Linked DNA regions of Homo sapiens. The protein of the gene in region 1 purifies or fractionates together with the protein of each later gene. This does not show direct contact. Each region holds a gene or a part of one and is shown in the gene's direction. Other genes may lie near its edges.

The links.
Region 2: the proteins of TRPV3 (region 1) and NAT8L purify together in Homo sapiens (affinity purification with mass spectrometry; one large-scale study listed by BioGRID and IntAct). This does not show direct contact.
Region 3: the proteins of TRPV3 (region 1) and MMP15 purify together in Homo sapiens (affinity purification with mass spectrometry; one large-scale study listed by BioGRID and IntAct). This does not show direct contact.

The regions. Positions count from the first base shown.
Region 1 is NC_000017.11:3,554,905-3,559,269, reverse strand, and holds the start of TRPV3 (transient receptor potential cation channel subfamily V member 3), read left to right. Parts: upstream 1-1,457; 5' UTR 1,458-1,594; intron 1,595-4,365. UniProt on the Homo sapiens protein: Non-selective calcium permeant cation channel. It is activated by innocuous (warm) temperatures and shows an increased response at noxious temperatures greater than 39 degrees Celsius. Activation exhibits an outward rectification.
Region 2 is NC_000004.12:2,065,687-2,069,328, forward strand, and holds the end of NAT8L (N-acetylaspartate synthetase), read left to right. Parts: 3' UTR 1-3,403; downstream 3,404-3,642. UniProt on the Homo sapiens protein: Catalyzes the synthesis of N-acetylaspartate acid (NAA) from L-aspartate and acetyl-CoA. Promotes dopamine uptake by regulating TNF-alpha expression. Attenuates methamphetamine-induced inhibition of dopamine uptake.
Region 3 is NC_000016.10:58,028,754-58,032,395, forward strand, and holds part of MMP15 (matrix metalloproteinase-15 preproprotein), read left to right. Parts: intron 1-3,642. UniProt on the Homo sapiens protein: Endopeptidase that degrades various components of the extracellular matrix. May activate progelatinase A.

The DNA.
Region 1 (4,365 bases):
ACAGGGCACACCTCTGGGTGGGAGACAGGGGCCTTTTTCACCAGCTCCCACCTGCCCTCTGAGAAAAGTTATGAACACGAGCAAAATGGAAGCACTGACATTTGGCAGCAGCTTCCTCCCCAGGCGTCTGAGCCGCCAGAGGCAAACAGGGAGGGCGCGGGGCTGGGTCGGGAGAGGGTGAGTAAGCTAGTGGCCGGAGGCCGTGCTCAACCCCAGATCGGGCTTTTCCGGTCGAGTTTCAGGCACAGTCATGAGATTTCAGATTGTGAGTGGGAACTTCAGGACCCCCTGACTTCAACGGCAGAAGCGGTCTCCTGCTTCACCCACACCCTCAAGTCTGGTCTGCCCCTTACCGGCCATAGGTCCTGCTCTCCCGTGGCCTAGAAGCCTCACCTGCCTCCTGCCTCCTCCCCAGGCCAGGCAGGTTGTGATGATGAGGGATTGAGAGGCTCACAGCTGGGGATTTCCCTGCCCATCAGGCGCCAGCTGCGGCCGCGTCAGCAGAGACTTCCTGCTCTGTCCCAGCTGTGTCTTGTCCACATCTCGCCCCGGGGAGCAGGTGTGCAGTTCCTGAGTGACGCGAGACACACACGGCCATCCTGACTCACTCCACCCACTTCACAGCTGCAGCCTGGGCCAGGAGAGAGGGCACCGATTCCTTCTATGACGCCCTGGCCTTGGAGAAGGGCAACCTGGGCAGTTGCTGGGAGAATACATTGAGATGACAAAAGCAATCATAGCTAAGAGCTGACATTGTTTATTGAGTTCTTGCCGTGCCCTGGGCCTTGTTCTGGCCCTTTCTACTTGTACTTGTTGAAGCCCCACGATAACCTTGCAAAGTGGGTTTATGAAGCACGTTTCACAGATGAGGAGACTGAGGCTCGGAGAAATGACCTGCTAAGGTCATTCAGCCAGGAAGGGGTGAGGCTGACACTAAGGGCCATGATGCGTGACTGCTGGTGGACAGCATTAAATGGGGACTTCCGTCCCCGAGAGACCTGATCCCAGGAACCGACTTTTGAGAACAAGTGCCGAGTCTTGGGGCTGGCCACCCTGAGGTCAACCAGGCTAGGCCTGGGCTGCGGTCTTCCCTCCCAGGGGACAGAGCAGAGCGCTTGACTCTTCACTAGGCCCTCCCACCTCTGTGATCTCTTTGGCTCTTCACGGCTCCCTTGGAAAGTAGATGTTATCATTCCCATTTCCTAGTTGGAAAAATAGGCCTGAGATGGGCAGTCCCTGCCCAGCATGGAATGCCAGAGAGGGAGGAGTTGGACCCACAACTTCGATCTTGGCACCTGCGGCCTCCCCTGCCTTTTCTCCGGTGGGGATGAGGCTGCTGTGTGGGTGTGGGGGTGACTCACACGGGCCACGTGGGTGGGCGGGTGCTGCAGCTGTGGCTGGTGGGCGTGGCCTGCCTGGCGCCGAGGGCAGGTGGCTCAGCCAGTTCTGCCTCTGACGCCTCATTCCAGCCATCCCTCTGCCTGCAATGAGAGCTTCCCGCCGCCTCAGCCACAGTCCCACCCGGGGGCCTTGGGCCCCAGACATGCGGTGATCTCAGGGCAAGGGTTGCCACGACCACCCAGAACCTCACCAGGTGAGTCTTCTGTGCACAAGGCAGCTGGTGATCTCCAAGGCCCCTGGGGAGCCCAGAGCGTGGCCCTCAGAGGTCCTCTGGGCCATGTCTGCCCTTGGCCAATAGGCCTTGGGAGGAGGGTTGGAAGGAGCTTGGGCCCCAGCCAGGGGCCCACTCTTGGCTGTAGGGAGGCACTCTTGGCTGCACTCTTGGCTGTAGGGATGTGTGAGAATATAGGTCCTTACAGACTCAGGAACATTCCCCTGAGGTTTGGGAATCCTGGGGAGGGACATCTCAATCTCACCACTGCTGGGGGCAGAGGAGAGGCTCCTGCCTCCCGAGGCTGACCCAGGGAGGTGGCTTTCTGGGGCAGGATTGTGATGGGAGTTCAGGATGGGAGGAGGTGGCCCCACCGTGGGAGACAGACGGGGCCCAGGCATCTCACAGGTGCTGAGTCAGCAGCTGTGGCTCCGCGGCCTGGTCTGTCGCCCGGGAAAGGCCATTTCAATCAGTGTCAGGGATTGGGAGAGAGAGGGAGGGCCAGGGCAACAAGAGAGTCCAGCAGGTGAGAACGTGGGGTTTACGGGGTGACTCAGGGAGCTAATGATAGCTGCTGCGGCCCTAGTCCAGAGTTCCCTGAGCCTCTCCTGCCCCAGAGGCCCAGGGCAGGCCACATTCTCGGGCCCAGAGAAGAGAGAGAGCAACCAGCTCTCAGGGCCACAGAGTCCTTGGGGACCATTCAGCCCACTTCTCAGAAAGGAAACCAGAGGCCCTGGGAGGGGCAAGAGACGTGCCCTTCTTCTGTCTCCTTCACGCTCGGTGCATCCCAGCCTTTTAGTCCACCAAAGGCCACGTGGGGATGGGGAAAGCCATAGAGGCTGCCCATCCTCATCAGGCCGTGACTGGACACGGGAGGGCCGGGTGCCCAGGAGTCCCTCTCTGTGGGCTACTCCACCTGCCTGGCCTCAAGGTTGCCTACGCTCCAGGGCCAAAGCTCTCCCTCGCCGATGCCTCCTCCATCCTGAGCCTGCTCCCTTTGAGTTGGAGGGCGGGGGACTCTCTCCAGCCTGATGACACCTGGCTCCGGAAACTTCCTCCAGGAAGCTTTCCTATTGGGGTAGGATCACCAGTGGCCCCAGCTCCACCCCACCCAGCTGGGTTCTTCTTACAGAAATCCGTCTTCCTGCCCCCACCTATGTGTCGCCAGGTGAGTCCCCTGAGGATGATTCAAGCTGAGAGTGGCACCCCCTGACCACACAGTCACCACCTGTCCACACAGCCCTTTCCCCGCCCATGTCATCCCTCTGTGGCCAGCTGGCCCCCTTCCCCGTCCCTATGGCCCCTGCAGCAGCCTCCTCCTGGCCCCTGGCTTCTGGTCTCCCCCACCCCCCAACGCAGCCCGCGCTCTCCTATGTAACCCAGAGCCTCTGCACCCAACTCCCAGCTGCCCCCAGGGGTCAGCCATAGCTCCTTTTTTATGTTTAATAAAAACTTTATTTTTTTTTTTTTTCATTTTTTTTGAGACGGAGTCTCGCTCTGTCGCCCAGGCTGGAGTGCAGTGGCACAATCTCGGCTCAATCCAACCTCTGCCTCCTGGATTCAAGTGATTCTCCTGCCTCAGCCTCCCGACTAGCTGGGACTACAGGCATGTACCACCATGCCCGGCTAATTTTTTGTATTTTAGTAGAGACGGGGTTTCACCATGTTGCCCAGGCTGGTCTTGAACTCCTGAGCTCAGGCAATCTGCCCACCTTGGCCTCCCAAAGTGCTGGGATTACAGGTGTGAGCCACTGTGCCTGCCTGAAGCCACAGCTCTTATGCGGTGTTCGAGGACTATACAGGGCCCAGCCTGCCCGCATGGCTTTCGCTGGCAGGGTCCCCATGAGCTCCCCAGGTTCTCTGGCCACAGCAGCTCCCCCCACTCCTGCCACTCCTGACCCTCCCAGGCTCTGTCCTCTGCCCGGCTTGTCCTTCCTCCACACAGCAGCCTGTACGGTCTATCCTGGTCTTGTTGGAAGATGTATCAGTCCCCCTTCCCCAATCCCCACACCCCTCGGAGCTCAGCACGGTGCCCAGCCCACATTGAGCATCAGTAAAGCAGGTCTGGACTGGGGGGTCGGCCTCCTCTGCCTGGGGCAAGGGGACTCAGCTGCTCCCTGCAGGTGAGAGGGGAATCTAATGGACAGGCAGCCATAAGCTGGTTACACACAGCTTTGGGTGGGCGGGGGAGATGATCGGTGTGTTGGCTGCAGAGACCACCTGGACACTGAGGAATCCAAAACACCTGAGGAGCTTAAGGCTGTGTTACTAGGAGCATAACATCTAGAGCAAAGGAGGTGATAATCTTGCTCTGTGGAGGTCAAAACTCTTGGAGAGCTGCTCATCACAAAATCGGAGAGGGACCTCAGGAAAGCAGAGCTAGTGCTTAGGAGTCCGCCTGGGACTGGTCAGCTGGAGAGGGTGTCATGAGAGAGGACAGGGGCATGGTGGTCTCTACCGGGACACCCTGCTGGACTCTCCACTAGTTCAGGGGTCCACCTGGGGACTGGTTGGCTGGGGAGGGTGTCATGAGAGAGGACAGGGGCATGGTGGTCTCTACTGGGACACCCTGCTGGGCTCTCCTAGGACCATAGCATTTGGGGGTGCTAGAGCAGGGAGCTGGGGAAGCTTTGGGGACAGCTTCTCTGTCCTTGAAGAAGGATTGGTGAACTGGGAAGGGAGGAGTGAGCTTCCAGTTCCAGGTAGTGTGAACGGGAGCTGGATGCAGCCACATGGGGCCCCTAAACTCCCTG
Region 2 (3,642 bases), on another chromosome or scaffold:
AGAAGCCCTGCGTCCAAGGGCCTTTTGTCCTGTTAGCAATTGAGGTGTGCAGAGCACTGTACAGACCCCACTCCCCTGTACATTCCTCCCTGGAGGTGCCCGGTCCCCGCTTGGGGATGGGAGTTTTGTAGACTGTACAGAAATCGGCACCCTATTTTCTTGCAGCTCAGATTTTGTTAATCTGGAATATACAGACAGACGTAAAGTGTTTTAGCAAAATGGAAACAAACAGTTGTGCCTTTTTCCTCTTTTGGTTTGGTTTGGGTTTGGCCTGGGGCTGGTCCCAGTTGGTGCGGGGCATGCTGGGGGCAGGAGGGGCAGGGCGGGCCAGGTGGAGTCAGGTCTTGGGGGTGTCATGTCGGGGTGCTGCCAGCGTCCCTTGGTCCTGTGCCTTTGGAGCCTCGGGCTCCTGGGGTGCAGGGTGCTTGGGGGTGGCTGTTGGAGCCCACCGACGCCAGGGCAGGGCCTGGAGGCCCAGGGACTGCCAGTGTCTCCTTGATATTGATCCTAGCAGATCCCCCTCCTGGGGGTTCTGAGAGTCCTGGGCAGTGTGGCCTTCTCTCATTCTGGTGGCATCTGCGCCCGTGAGTGACCTCTTCCTTGGCTGCACTGCCCTGTGGGTGGTGAGACGCTTGGCCTTTTTTGTTGCTGCCAGGACTTGGTAGAGATGGCAGGAAGGGTGTGCGGGGTGGTTGTGTGCAGAACCCTGCCGCCCCTGAGGTGAGCAGAGGCACTGGTGTGCCTGCCAGGCTGGGGCGGAGCTGCCCGGAACCCTTGCCAGGCCAATGTGTAGCTTGGTGGCGCCCTTGAAGGCCACTGGGGGGTAGGTGTGTCCTCCCCCGGGGCTGGAGGCCGGGTGCCTGGTGGGTGGGCCTGACCTGGCCCACCTCATCCCTCCAGCCTGGGATCTCACTGCTCTGCACATGTGCACTGACGTGAATTTTATACGTTTGTAGAAACTCTGATGTAACTTCTTCTACCTCTGAAGCGCCCTCCTGGGCCCTGCTGTCACGTGGCTGGTGCGGCTTCCCCGAGTGCTGGCCCCCTGCCCGCTCCCCATGGGCACCCACCACTCAAACTCTGCGTGGTGAGGCCCGGGGAAAGCCAGGCCGGGCCCTAGCACTGCTCAGGGGCCTGGGGCTCCTGGGATTTCTGTGTGTTTGGAAGCCTCTGTTTTTGGAGTGGGGGGCGTGGAAGGCGGGAGGGGCTGACAGTGCCTGGGGCCAGAGCTGGGCGAAGGAGGACATCCTCACTGGACGAGCACTGCAGGCCTGACGAGAGGCTCCGGGCAGCTGAGGGCTGAAGCGCCTCGGGATGCCCCACACTGCCCAGAGCCACGGGTCTTGCTGTGCTGGGGGTGGGGTGGCCCCAGGCAGCTGCCACTGCCCAGGTGTGAGTCGCTGCAGACCTGGTCCCTGAGGGTGGGAGGCCTGCTTGTGCTGAAGCTGCCATGTGGTCTGGCCCCCAGAAGGGCTCCTGAGCGTAGGGAGTTGAGCCCCGCAGCCGTGGCGGCATCTCCTCCTCCTTCCTCCGCCCCATGCCCAGCCTTGCTTCCGGCTGGTGGCATGCCTTGGGGCCGGGCAGCAGGTGAGAAGCTGCCCCCGGAGGGAGGGGCCAAGGGCTGGGTCAGTCTGGCCTGAGGGGTGGATGGCTGGCCCTGGGGGAAGGCTGGGCCTGGGAGGCCCTGTGGACAGCAGGCCTGAGGCCACGAGGTCCTGGGGCCACCCCTCTCCTGCTCTGGGTGTCCTTCTCAGAGAAGATGGCAGAAGGCTGCAGGCCCTAGAGGGGACGACGGGCTGGGGACGCCCTGAGCTTCCTGGCTGTGTGGCAGGTGCTGGGGAAGCTCTCTGGGCCATAGGGACCTGGCTCCCCTCTGAGAGGCCCGCCTGCCCTGGGGCACCCAGGGCTGTGCTGGTGGCCTGAGGCTGGGAACTTGGGTTCCTGGGCTCTGCTGGCGCCTGGGCTTTGTGGGGGCCGAAGGTGGTTGCCCCGCCGGGCAGGGGGCTGTGTGGGCCCTCGTGGGGCCACCTTCCTGTCAGTGCCCGAGGGACGGTGGGACAGTTGCCCCTGCGCCAAGGGAGCCCACTGCCATCCCCCGTGGGCTGGCGCTGCAGTCGCGCACCCTGTGTTGCCTGCTGACTTGCTTATGTCTGTTTGGAAGCTGCTTCTGTTTGGCCACAGGCCTGTGTTCCTGGGCTGATGGCCACAGAGCTGACACTTGGGGTTTGAGTTCCAGACTTGCAGACCCTGGGATCCGCTTACTCCTCCGCGCCACGGCTGCTGTGCTTCCAGAGGTGGCGTGATGCCTCCCGGGGCCATGGTGGGGTGAAGGATGGCGAGCCGGACATACCATTGTTGGATGTATTTTTTTTAAAACAGCAATAATTAGCCATTTTAAAGGAGGGATGTACCTGTGTGTGTGCATGTGCACGTGTTTGAGCGTGTGTGTGTGTGCAAGTGGGTTCTTGGATATGTGTAGTGTGAGCATGTGTGCATGTGTGAGCCTGTGCACGTGCATGTTGTAGGTGCATAAGCATGTACACGCGTGAGCATGCATGTGTGTGTACACGTGTATAGGTGTACATGTGCATGAGTTGTGTACATGCGTGAGCACGTGTATAGATGTACGTGTGTGTGCGCATGTGTGCGTGTACATGTGTTTGTGTCTTGGGTATGCATAAGCATGCACGTGTGTATGAATGTGCGTGTGTATGCATGAGCACGTATGCATGTGTGATGCGCATGTTCTTGTGTACTTCTCTGAGGGGGCACATATGTATGAGTGTATGAGTGCATACATATGCATATGGTGTACGTGTGTGTACTTTGTGTGTGGGCATGTATGCGTATGAGTACTTGTGTGTGGCTGGTGTATGGGTGAGCATGCACATGTGTATGGATGCATATGTGAGCTGTACATGTAGAGTGTACATGTGTGTTGCATGAGCATGCATGCGTGCGAGTGCCTGTGTGTGTACTTGCATATATGTGGCTGTGCAGGTACCCGGCGGTGGTGGGCTGGCAGTGCCCGGGGAAGCAGGTCCTGCTCACGGCTTCCCTGCTGGGCCCCAGGCCCCGGGCTGAGCCTCCCTGGCCCCTCTTGCCCCTCAGTGGAGCAGGGCCTGGGTGGAGGGCCTGGGCAGCTCCAGGGCAGGTCCGGGGAGGCCAGGCTTGGGGAGCACAGGGGGTGGGGTTCACCTGCTGCTGTTTGTTCCCGAAACTGTACTGTGAGCCCACGGCGGGGGCAGATTGTTCTGAGGCCCCAGATGTGCCAAAACAGCCCCCAGGGTGGGGGCGAGCGAGTTCTGAGGAGAGGGGCTGCGGGGGCCGGGGGTGGGTGTGTGCCCCTCCCCTGAATGGCCCCCAATGCTGCTGTTTTTCAATAAAACCAGAGTTGAAGGCACCTGGCTCCCGTGCTCTCTTGAGGCGCTTCCTGCCCACTGTGTGGCAGGGCTGGCTTTCAGGGATGTGGCCCCACCCTTGGTTGCCCAGTTTGGCCCCCGCCGCCTCCCCCTTCTCCCCTGGCCACCCCCTTTCCCCACCTCGGCTCCCCTACACCTGGCCAGGCTGCCCTGCAGCCAGCACTGCCCCCTGGAGGGAGTGTAATCCAGGAGGTGGGGCAGGGGGGCTTGGTGGCCCCAT
Region 3 (3,642 bases), on another chromosome or scaffold:
CCACAGGACTTTCACGAGGCTGAGACATCAAGGAGCCTGGCATGTGCTAGGAACTGACAAACACCTGCAACCTGCCAGGCCCTAGCCCACCACTGAGCTGCCACGTCCTATCCCACATTCTCCCTTGGATGTCCAATCCCAGTCTGTAGCCATTCCGGGCCAGATCCCCACCTGGCTGAGGTGCTCACTGTTGTTCCTGCCCTGCAGGGCTGAGAGTCTCCAGGCTCACCGGGGGAGCTCTTATCTCACCTGCCTCCCCCTACCCCCTCCTCCCAGGCACAATTCAGGTCCTCAGCCTGCTCTGTGGAGGTGACTCAGGCTGCCAGAGTTCACAGGGGTGGTGCCACCACCACCAAAACCGATCCACCCGCCTTTCCTCAACAGGCCCACGAGTATCTTCCTAGCCCCTACCCAGCCACTGAGTAGATGAGGCAGCGGGGGTGGGGGCGTTGGGAGGGGGTCAGCGTGAATTACCATTTTGACCTTCAGGTGAGCCACAGTCTTGGGCTTCCTTAGCTTCAGTCTCTACTAGCACTTCCATGCTGGCTCCGGGGGGGCCCCACTGGTCCCCTCTTTCTTTTAAACAGAGCAAAACTACAGATGCCATCTGTGCCCACCAGCTAAGAAAAGGGAGTTAATAGCGGGGCCTTGTCATTGGGAATCTGCAGAAGCTGAATCTTCTCCCCCTCCCCTCTTGTCTCTGCTTTTTACTCTGTTTTCTTGCTAGTAGTAAATCACTCCTCTCCATGCTCTGTCAAGACCCAGAGAGAACTGGTCTGATTGGCACAGCCAGGGACCTAGATCTCATTGGGCCATGCCCTTCACACCCAGCCCTTGCCATGTTTCCGAGTTGGGGCTGCCCTTGGGTCCAGCCAGTCATCTGTCTCCTTGCAGAGAACAGCCCAGTGTAAGCTCCTTGTCTGAGCAGTGTATTGGCCTGACCTTCCCATTGTGACCTCTGAACATAAATACCTCCTTTGCCCCACCCCAAGGGATGTTGATACTTAAAAGATATCCATGAATGTGGAGAGGAGCAACATGGAAATACACGCTATCCCCACCCCCAAAAGAAGACTTTCCCCAAAAGCCCAGTGCCCACTGCTATCTCTTATGCCCATTCAGGATGGCTACACTGCAGGCGTGGAAAAGCCCCTCCCTGCCGAGCGGTTTGTTCTGCTGTCCCTCTGTGGCCCTTTTGTTGTTTGGTCCAGATGATCCCTTCCATCATCACCTCTGCCCTGCTGGGAGTTTGACCTCTGCCTCAGGCTAGCTGTGGTGGTCACTATGAGAACCACTACTTTCCAGATCAAATCAGAATGGGTATCCTCCATATCATCCCAAGGCTTAGGTGGCTCCCTGTCTTGGACACTCCAGCAGGAGCAATGCTTTGGTCCTGGAGATGTGTTTTCTGAGTCAGCAAAGACAGAGAGGGGTTGTGGACTCTGCCCTTATCTTTCTCCTTTACAAAGCGGGTCCTGGGAGAAGCCCACCATTGAGTGTGAGGACCGGGACCCTGAAGGCGGCTGAATGCTCCAGACCTGAGACACAGTAGGCACCATCTGGCTGGACAGCTCTGAGTGACGGCTCAGATAGGGCTGCTCCACAGTCAGACACAGGTTCCAGGGATTCCTGAGACCAGAGGCCATGGAGCTGGGCCTGGATCCCAGAGGCAAAGAGGGATGCCTCTTCCCTAATCCCATGGCCCTCGTGGGAATGGAAGAAAAAGTGGGAAGAGACCCAACTCAGCCTCCAGTATCAGGACAGGTGGATAAGCCCCTGGTACCAGCCATTAGCCAGCCCCTGGAGATGCCCCCCATCCTGCTGCCATCGGCCGATGGTGATGCAGGCCAAGGTCTAGATCACCTCTCCAGGGCACTGGCACTGGCACTGCCTTGTCCTTCCCCTAGGAGTGACTGTCACCCTGTAGGGGTGAGAGTCCAGCTCCACGTTCAGCGTTTCTGAGCATGGCACTTGATACATAGTGCACAACACGGTGGCCTACACCCTGTGTCCAGAGCCTCCCTGGCAAAATAGTGCAAAACAGTGACAGAAGCGAATGGCATTTACTGTTGGGCAAGTCACTGAATCTGTATGAACTTCAAGATCTCTATAAAAAGGGAATAGCAATGGTCTATCTGCTTGATGGAGTTACGGGGAGATTCATTGCATTTATGTGCAAAACACTAAACGCTATGCACAATGCCTGGCACAGGGGGCCTAAGGAGGCGCAGGTGTTATTTTTGAGCACCTTCAACATACTTGTGTCTGTTGTGGACACAGACTAGGGATGTTTTGTAAGCGTTTTCACATTTAATCCTTGTATTAACTCTTCAAGTGTAGATGCTGTCATTACTCAATCTACAAAAGAGGAAACTAATACTGTGAGTTGAGAGAAATGACCCCCGCATTCCATAGCCAGGGAGTGGCAGAGCTTGGATTTGAACCCAGCTCAGTCTGGCCTGGAGCCCAAGTTCCCAACCCCCATGCGGGGTTGAAGGCTACAGGTCAGAGCCTAGGGTGCCATCCTGTGGAAATTCCACCAGGCAGAATTCTGCTGGGCCCGATCCAGGTGGGAAAGAGGTTTCTGAGGTGGAGCCAGGGCTGCCTGAGCTGTGTGAGCCAAAAGCCCTCCCCCGGCCCACCCAGCCTTGCCCCCATCTGTCCAGCCACCCAAGCTCTGCCCTGTGGACAGCCCCGTCTAGGAGTCAGCACCTGCAGGGAGGTTTCCAGGTGAGGACCCAAGGCCGGGCCCCCAGCCAGGCCCGAAACTCCTGGCTAACAGAGGCCTCTTCACCCCGCGCGCTGGCCAGGGAACCCGGTTGTTTTTTCCTCCAAGTTAAGGAGTGTGGGGCAGGCTGGAAGGCTGCTGGGTAAAGAAGTGGTCAGACCTCAAGACGTCTTCCTCCTTCCTGCTTCTCCTGCTGGACTTCCCCACCACCCAGAGTCCCAGCCCCCACCTGCAACTCGCTTAAAGACCCATGGGAGGGAGCAGATTTAATCCCAGACTAAGCATGTGTGTCCTAGAACTGCTGAAATGTGGAACATGCTGCCTCTAAAGGTAGTGAGCAATCCTCCAAGGAGGACCTGGCTCGATGCCGCCTTTTTTTTTTTTTTTTTTTTTTTTTTTTTTTGAGACAGAGTCTCGCTCTTGTGGCCCAGGCTGGAGTGCAGTGGCGTGATCTCGGCTCACTGCAACCTCCGCCTCCCAGGTTCAGGCAATTCTCCTGCTTCAGCCTCCCAAGTAGCTGGGACTACAGGCGCTGCCACCACACCTGGCTAATTTTTTGTATTTTTAGTAGAGACAGGGTTTCACTGTGTTAGCCAGATTGTCTCAGTCTCCTGACCTCGTGATCTGCCCGCCTCGGCCTCCCAAAGTGCTGGAATTATAGGCGTGAGCTGCCATGCCCTGCCCATGCCACCTTTCTTTACTGGCCTTGGGGGTAGTTGCGCCATCGGCGCTCTCAACGCTGCTTGGTGGGTCGGAGTGATGATCTTGGCCCTATTTTGCAGAGGAGGGAACTAAGGCTCAGAAAAGTTATCCTAGCCGTCTTCCGTTGCTGGGAGGCCTGTTGTGTGGACTAGCAGTCAGGACCAAGGGGCAGCCTTCCGGGGGCTGACTTCCGCTCAGCCTGAGGAAGAGCT